2 linked regions of the Homo sapiens genome follow. The protein of the gene in region 2 interacts with the protein of the main gene of each other region in a pairwise test. Each region holds a gene or a part of one and is shown on either strand. Other genes may lie near its edges.

Region 1 (3,808 bases), on a different chromosome or scaffold from region 2:
AAACCTCAAAGAGTCTGCAGACAAATTATTAGAAATAAATGTGAGTTTAGAAAGGTGGCTGGATAAGGCCAGGAATGGCAGCTCACACCTGTAATCCCAGCACTGTGGGAGGCCAGGAGTTCGAGATCAGCCTGGCTAACATGGTGAAACCCCGTCTCTACCAAAAATACAAAAATTAGCCAGGCATTGTGGCATGCACCTGTAATCCCAGCTACTTGGGAGGCTGAGGCAGGGGAATCACTTGAACCTGGGAGGCACAGGTTGCAGTAAGTTGAGATCACAACACTGCACTGGGCGACAGAATAAGACTCTGTCTGCAAAAACACAAACAAACAAACGAAAAAGAAAGGTGGCTGGATATAAGATTAATATTTTACAAGTCAGCATAGTGGTCATCTCTGGAGGGAGGGGCTATGGGGTAGGGAGAAGCACAGATGCAAGCTATTAAATGGTCTTTTGGGATGTTGGTCTGGGATGTTGATGAGATATTGTCCCTAATTTCACAAAGTGTTCCAACAGCACCAGGAAACACTGTGTTTATGCTGAACAACTGATTCATTTCTATCTTGTGGATTCTGAGAATGTTCTAATGGACCTTGTTCCTCTTTTTGCTTTGATTGTTAACACACAGCAAAAATTTCACCTCTGCTTCTAGCAATCTTTGGGATGCGTTTGTGCTAAATGGGCCATAGCTTTATTTCCCTGCCTTTATTTTTCTCTCATCCTGATTTCCTCATTAATTGTATCTCATTGAACAATACATAATTTTTATAAGTGGTCCCAAGTCATTTTTTTGGAATAAGAAAAAAGTTAGTTAGCTAGCTGGCCAGAGATACTGGCAGAACCTGTCCTTTCCCTCTCTTTTAACAAAGTTAGGCCTTTGTTGGGTAATTTAAAATTTAATCTTCAATTTTAAAACGAGTACTACAATTTGCGCCTGCTGCTATATTCTGAGCAATTAATTTAACAACAACAACGACAACAAAAATGGTGTCTGACCAGTCCATGAGATGAAACAAGGTGACGGTTTAAATTCAAGTCATTTCCCACAGCATTACTCTTTGGAACTCCCTTTTTTGTCTTTATATGCAACTTACAAGCTCCTGATTTAAGAAGCCTGCTGGATGAGCTCTCGACACACAACTTTCTTTGGACCAGCCGGGCACGGTGGTTTATGCCTGTAATCCCAGCACTTTGGGAGGCCGAGGCGGGTGGATCACTTGAGGTCAGGAGTTCAAGACCAGCCTGGCCAACATGGTGAAACCTCATCTCTACTAAAAATACAAAATTAGCCGGGTGTGGTGGTGGGCGCCTGTAATCCCAGCTACTTGGGAGACTGAGGCAGGAGAACTGCTTGAACCTGGGAGGCAGAGGTTGCAGTGAGCCAAGGTCATGCCATTGCACTCCAGCCTGGGAAATAAGAGCAAAACTCCATCTCAAAAAAACCTTTTTTTCCTTTGGACCATATTAATTTCTCTGCACTCCTCAATTAATATAGTTCCCTCCCAACCACTCTCTTCCCTCTCAGAGACAGTTAGGTCTCCTTCCATTACCTCTTCAGTACTTCCTCCTTCATTTTAAGCTATGCTGTGTATTCCAGTGACTCAACCAGGAGATACTAAAGAGCAGAAATCAAGTGCACGGAGCCAGACCTGGGCCAAATCTCATCTCTGCTACTAACAAAGCTGTGTGACCTTTGGCAAGTCCCTAAATTTCTCTGAGCCTCAGTTTGCTTATCCATACAATAGGCACAAGGAATGTAAGTATAAATGAGAACCTGAGTTTAATTACTTAAAGTAGAGTTCCTGGCACCTATAAAGTGCTTGAGAAATGTTAGCTAGATTCTTCCAGTTACAGAAATAAAGTCGACTCTTTTTTTATTTTTTAATTTTAATTTTTTAGAGATGGGGTCTTACTATGTTGTCCAGGCTATTCTTAAACGCCTGGCCTCAAGCAATCATCCCGCCTCAGCCTCCCCAAGTGCTGGGATTACAGGCATGAGCTGAAAATCAACTATTCAGAGCTTTAAAGCTGTGTCTCCACTACATGTTTCTAGGGATTTTTTTTTTTTTCAAATAAAAACCATATTTAAGGCTGGGCGTGGTGGCTCATGCCTGTAATCCCAGAACTTTGGGAGGCTGAGCTGGGCAGATCACTTGAGGTCAGGAGTTCGAGACCAGCCTCCTGGCTAACATGGTGAAACCCCATCTCTATTAAAGATACAAAAACTAGCCAGGCGTGGTGGCAGTTGCCTGTAATCCCATCTACTCGGGAGGCTGAGGCAGAAGAATCACTTGAACCTGGGAGGTGGATATTGCAGTGAGCCGAGATTGCACCACTGCACTCCAGCCTGGGCAACAAAGATAGACTCCATCTCAAAAAAAATAAACAAAATAAAAAGCATATTAAACATTTTCAGGTTAATTTAAAGCGACTTCTCCAGCCTCCCAGTTTTGCTCACTCCACTGCGTGCTCTCCACACGAGTCATTCATCTGCTCTCCTGTTTACTGAACGAGCTGCCCATCCCTGGCTGGTTATGCCCTAGACCAGCAGACAGTGCTGGGTACAGAAGGGAGTCAGACATACCAGATTCAAACCCGTGATCCCACAGTGCTTAGCTGGGTGATCTCGGGAGTTATTTAACCTCTCTGGGCCACCACGTCTCTGCCTACGAAGTAGGAACATGAATACCTGCCTTCTCTGGTATCTTTAACCTAAACAGTGACTGCGCCAAAGTGGCTGAGGGCACAGAAGGGGCCGTGTATATATTGCCCAGTGCCTGGCCTCTGGTTGACATTCTCTGCCTTCTTCCTTAGCACCATTCATAGCAAACATTTAAGGGGGTTTTTCTGTGCCAAGCACTGTCCCCCATACTGGGGGTTCAGAGAACAGTGAGGCTGGCAGTGTCTGCCCTTGGAGAGCTCATTCTGCACTCCACAACTCTTCCTACTCTGGGCCTTCCAGCCTCAGCACAACCCTTGCGTGAGCCTCCCACTAACCAGTCCTAGTTCATTTGATTTTTATAAAAGCCCTCCCTTTTTAAAAAACAATTTTAAAGCAAATTTGGCTAATGCACCAAGCAGTGGTTTTTCCAGTAGGGATGGTACCCACTAGCATGGGGCCCGTCCACCATCTTGTTTTTCTAAGCAACTCTAACACACATTATCTGCTCAAATAAACAAACTCGGCAGGGTGTGGCGGCTCACACCTGTAATCCCAGCTCTTTGGGAGGCCTAGGTCGGTGGATCACCTGAGGTCAAGAGTTCGAGACCCGCTGGCCAACATGGTGAAACCTAGCCTTTACTAAAAATACAAAAATTAGCCGGGCATGGTAGCGGGCACTTGTCATCCCAGCTACTCAGGAGGCTGAGGCAGGAGAATCACTTGAATCCAGGAGGTAGAGGTTGCAGTGAGCCAAGATCACATCATTGCACTCCAGCCTGAGCAATAGAGCAAAAACTCCATCTCAGAAAATAAATAAATTAACAATAAACGAACTCAATGGATGCACTGGCAGGAACACCACATTCCCATGGCTAGCTCGAACAGACAAGGGAGAAGAGAGGGCAGGATGGAAAAAAGAAAAGCATTTTATAAACTCTGTTGAGATATGAGTCTCAGCTCTTCATCTTAACACAAATATCATCGACAAAACAACAAAAACAGTGACCTAGTTTTTACCGCCACAACCACCACCACCTCCCTTGCTATAGAAGCCCTTCAAGATGCCCCCCCCAATGGTCCTTGCCCTCTGCTCATCACACTTACACGTGGTCACCTCCCACGTTAACATTAACCAACAAAATA
Region 2 (4,576 bases):
TTTTTTTTTTTTGAGACGGAGTTTCGCTCTTGCTGCCCGGGCTGGAGTGCAATGGTGCGATCTCGGCTTACTGCAACCTCTGCCTCCCAGGTTCAAGCGATTCTCCTGCCTCAGCCTCCCAAATAGCTGGGACTACAGGCACGCTCCACCACGCCCAGCTAATTTTGTATTTTTAGTAGAGATGGGGTTTCTTCATGTTGGTCAGGCTGGTCTCGAACTCCTGACCTCAGGTGAACTGCCCACCTTGGCCTCCCAAAGTGCTGGGATTACAGGTGTGAGCCACCGTGTCCTTTTTTTTTTTTTTTTTTTTTTTTAAATAGAGACAAGGTCTCACTATGTTGCCCAGGCTGGTCTTGAACTCCTGGGCTCAAGCAATTCTCCTGCCTCAGCCTGCTAAAGTGCTGGGATTGCAGGAATGAGCCCTGGTGCCCCAGCCTCATGCATCTCTTGACCTCGTGATCTGCCCGCCTCGGCCTCTCAAAGTGCTGGGATTACAGGCGTGAGCCAGAGCGCCCAGCCCCTGCTTTCAGTTCTTTTGGGTATATACCCAGAAGTGGAATTGCTGGATCATATGGTAGTTCTAGTTTTAATTTTCTGAGGAAGTGTCATATTGGTCTCCATGGTGACTGCACCATTTTACGTTCTCGCCAACAGTGCACAAGCGGTCAAGCTTATTCTTTTATTGTTTATTTATTTGGGACAAAGTCTTGCTCTGTCGCCCAGACTGGAGTGCAATGGTGCCATCACAGCTCACTGCAGCCTCCTGAATTCTATGTTTCCCAGGCTGGTCTCAAACTGCTGGACTCAAGTGATCTTCCTACCTCAGCCTCCCAAAGTGCTGGGATTTTTTTTTTTTTTTTTTTTTTTTTTTTTTTTTTTTTTGAGACAGAGTCTCACTCTGTCGCCCAGACTGGAGAGCAGTGGCGTGATCTCGGCTTACTGCAACCTCAGCCTCCTGGGTTCAAGCAACTCCCTGCCTCAGCCTCCCGAGTAGCTGGGATTACAGGCACCCACCACCACGCCCAGCTAATTTTTATATTTTTTAGTAGAGACAGGGTTTCACCATCTTGGCCAGGATGGTCTCGAACTCCTGACTTCAGGTGATCAGCCGGCCTTGGCCTCCCAAAGTGCTGGGATTACAGGTGTGAGCCACTGCGCCCAGCCAGTGCTGGGATATTATAGGCCTGACCCACTGCGCCTGGCCTAGTCTACCTTTTTTTTTTTTTTTTTTTTTTTTTTTGAGATGGAGTCTTGCTCTGTCACCAGGCTGGAGTGCAGTGGCGTGATCTTGGCTCACTGCAACCTCTGCCTTCCGGGTTCAAGTGATTCTCCTGCCTCAGCCTCCTGAGTAGTTGGGGCTACAGGCGTGAGCCACCGCGCCCGGCCCCCCCCCTTTTTTTTTTTTTTTTTTTTGATAGTCTCATTCTGTTGCTCAGGCTGGAGGGCAGTAATGTGATCTCAGCTCACTGCAACCTCCACCTTCCAGGCTCAAGTGATGCTCTCACCTCAGCCTTCCGAGTAGATGGGACTACAGGTGCATGCTGCCACACCAAGCTAATTTTTTTTTTCTTTTTTTGAGATGGAGTCTCACTCTGTCTCCCAGGCTGGAGTGCAGTGGCTTGATCTCAGTTCACTGCAACCTCCGTCTCCCAGGCTCAAGAGATTATCCTGCCTCAGCCTCCCAAGTAGCTAGGATTACAGGCACGTGCCACCACACCCGGCTAATTTTTGTACTTTTAGTAGAGACAGGGTTTCACCATGTTGGCCAGGCTGGTCTCAAACTCCTGACCTCAAGTAATCCTCCCACCTCAGCCTCCCAAAGTGCTGGAATTACAGGTGTGAGCCACCGCGCCCGGCTACCAAGCTAATTTTTAAAATTTGTTTGGAGAGATGGGGTTTCACCATGTTGTTCCAAGACCCCAGTGCTTTTCGCCTCCATTAGCAACTACAGGAACATCTTCGTTCATCTCTGTCTCCCCACTTGTGAGATGTTCTCTTTAAGATAAACTCCCGGCAGTGAAGGGTGTGTGCATTTTAAAAGGTCTCAGATATGGCCAAATCATCCCCATTGCAACCTGTGATGGGGACTCTTTCCCATGCCCCTGCCACCACTGGGGAGCCCTTCTTGTTCATCTCACCAGCTGGAGCCCCCCTCTCTCAGTTTATCTTTGTCTCACACTCACCTGACCTTGCAGGGCTCGGCTCCTTGCTCCACGCCCTGTCCATGTGGCTTTTGCATCCTGAGGCATGAGTTCCTCTGCTCTGTCTGCCTGCTTTTCTCTATCAACCTGTCACCTTCCCTTCGGGCTCACTTCCTACCTCTCTGAGGCTCTGTCCGTCTCTGTCTCACTTTCCCTCTCGTCTCTGGTTTCCCTTCTCTGTCTCTCTGTTGCGGTGTCTCTCTCCTGGCTGGGTTTGATGTCTGTTTCTCCCTGACCACCTGCTCTGTCACTCATGCTAGTTTGGGTTCCCTACCCTGGTGCCTATTCTGGGATATACATGGGTATGTGGGCAGCCCTGGGCTGGCACATGCAGCCTTGGAGGCTCTGGCGTCAGGGACCCCCATGAGGGCTACCAGTAAGAACCAGAGAGAGCGACGGTTCCTGGCTTCAGCCCCAAACCCTGGCTGTCAATATCAGCCTTGGTGGGAGCCCTAGGCTTCCCTCTCCCTCTCAAACCCTCCCCAGGCAGAAGGCAACTTCCTCCCTTCTTCCGTCTCCCCAGGGGGCTCCCATACCTGCTCAGACCAGCTTGTCACCAAGTCTGCCTCATCCTTAAGTGGATCGCGATACCCCAGAAGAGCAGCTCCTGCCTGAATAGGGCTAGGAGGGGAAAAAAAAGAGGAAGAGGCTGTGTTCCTGAGCCACCCGGCCAGGAAGGGCCTGGCTGGGCCGGACGCCCCACCCTTGCCAACAGGCAGGCCCGCCCCGTCTCCGCCTCGCCGCCAACAAGGAGGACCAGCACCAGGCCTGGGAACTGCTGACCTGCCCGCCCACCTTCCCACCCAGACCCCGCCTTCCCGGGCCAGCGGGACATGACAGACCTGTGAGTCACTCAAGCCTGGGGCAAGGAGGGGCTGGTGCCTGAGTGAGACCCCGAGCTTCGCTCGCCAGGCCCGTCGCTCAGCTCCCGGTCTGGGTCCCCAGTCAGCAGTTGCTGGGGAAGGCGCAGGAGCTGGAAGTCATGCCTGATGCCACGAGACCGGGCACCCCAAGGGCGTGAGTCTTCTGTCCCTGTTGTTGGGTTCTGAGTCCCAGTGTGGCTGCACACTTCTGAGTTAGGGGTGTTTGATGCAAGCGCTCTGGAGACCCAAAGAGAGGGACAGTCCACACATGATCTGGCCACAGTCGTGAAGTCAAGGGAGGACTGAGGATCTGCCCCAGAGAGGAGGAGACCCAGGGAGCTGGCAGTCCAACGTCCTGGGGGTCCTGCAGTAATGCTGTTGGGACAAATGAGGTGCTCGGACAGGGTCTGTGAGCAGGAGGTGGGGCTGAATCCACTCAGCTTCTCATGGGATGGCTGTAGCTAATGGATTCGACGTGGTAATAGAAGGCTGGACAAATTTTAAAAAATCAATAAATTATGGGCTGGGCGTGGTGGCTCATGCCTGTAATCCCAGCACTTTGGGAGGCTGAGGCGGGTGGATACGAGGTCAGGCGTTCAAGACCAGCCTGGCCAACATAATGAAACCCGTTTCTACTAAAAATACAAAAAATTAGCCCGGCGTGGTGGTGGGCGCCTGTAATCCCAGCTACTCAGGAGGCTGAGGCAGGAGAATTGCTTGAGCCTGGAAGGCGGAGCTTGCAGTGAGCCGAGATCACACCACTGCACTCGCACTCCAGCCCGGGCGACAGTGCGAGACTCCATCTCAAAAAAAAAAATCAATAAATTATGGTTTAAAAATAAAAAACAGGCCAGGTAGGATGACTCACACTTTGGGAGGAGAGGCAGACAGATCACCTGAGGCCGGGAGTTCGAGACCAGCTTGACCAACATGAAGAAACCCAGCCTCTACTAAAAATACAAAAATTAGCCAGGTGTGGTGGCTTGCGCCTGTAATCCCAGCTACTCAGGAGGCTGAGACAGAAGAATCGCTTGAACCTGGGAGGCAGAGGTTGCAATGAGCTGAGATCTCGTCACTGCACTCCAGCCTGGGCAACAGAGCAAGACTCTGTCTCAAAAATAAAAATAAATAAAAATAAAAATAAAAAACTGCCGGGTGCGGTGGCCCATGCCTGTAATCCTAGCACTTTGGGAGGCTGAGGTGGGTGGACTGCCTGAGCTCAGGAGTTCGAGACCAACCTGGGCAACATGGTGAAACCCCATCTCTACTAAAATACAAAAAAAAAAAAAAATTAGCCGGGCGTGGCGACCTGCGCCTGTAGTCCCAGCTACTCAGGAGGCTGAGGCAGGAGAATAGCTTGAACCCGGGAGGCGGAGGTTGCAGTGAGCCGAGATTGTGCCACTGCACTCCAGTCTGGCGACAGAGCGAGACTCCTAAAAAAATAATAATAAATAAATAAATATAAAATAAAAATAAAAAACTGGCTGCTTAATGCATAGGGGGCTTTCTTTC

The links.
Region 1: the proteins of DNASE1L1 (region 2) and PECAM1 interact in binary tests that used the Homo sapiens proteins (3 or more experiments, as listed by UniProt).

Annotation. Positions count from the first base shown.
Region 1 is NC_000017.11:64,380,663-64,384,470, forward strand, and holds part of PECAM1 (platelet endothelial cell adhesion molecule precursor), read right to left. Parts: intron 1-3,808. UniProt on the Homo sapiens protein: Cell adhesion molecule which is required for leukocyte transendothelial migration (TEM) under most inflammatory conditions.
Region 2 is NC_000023.11:154,406,375-154,410,950, forward strand, and holds the start of DNASE1L1 (deoxyribonuclease-1-like 1 precursor), read right to left. Parts: upstream 2,881-4,576; 5' UTR 2,738-2,880; exon of another isoform or gene 2,184-2,737; intron 1-2,183.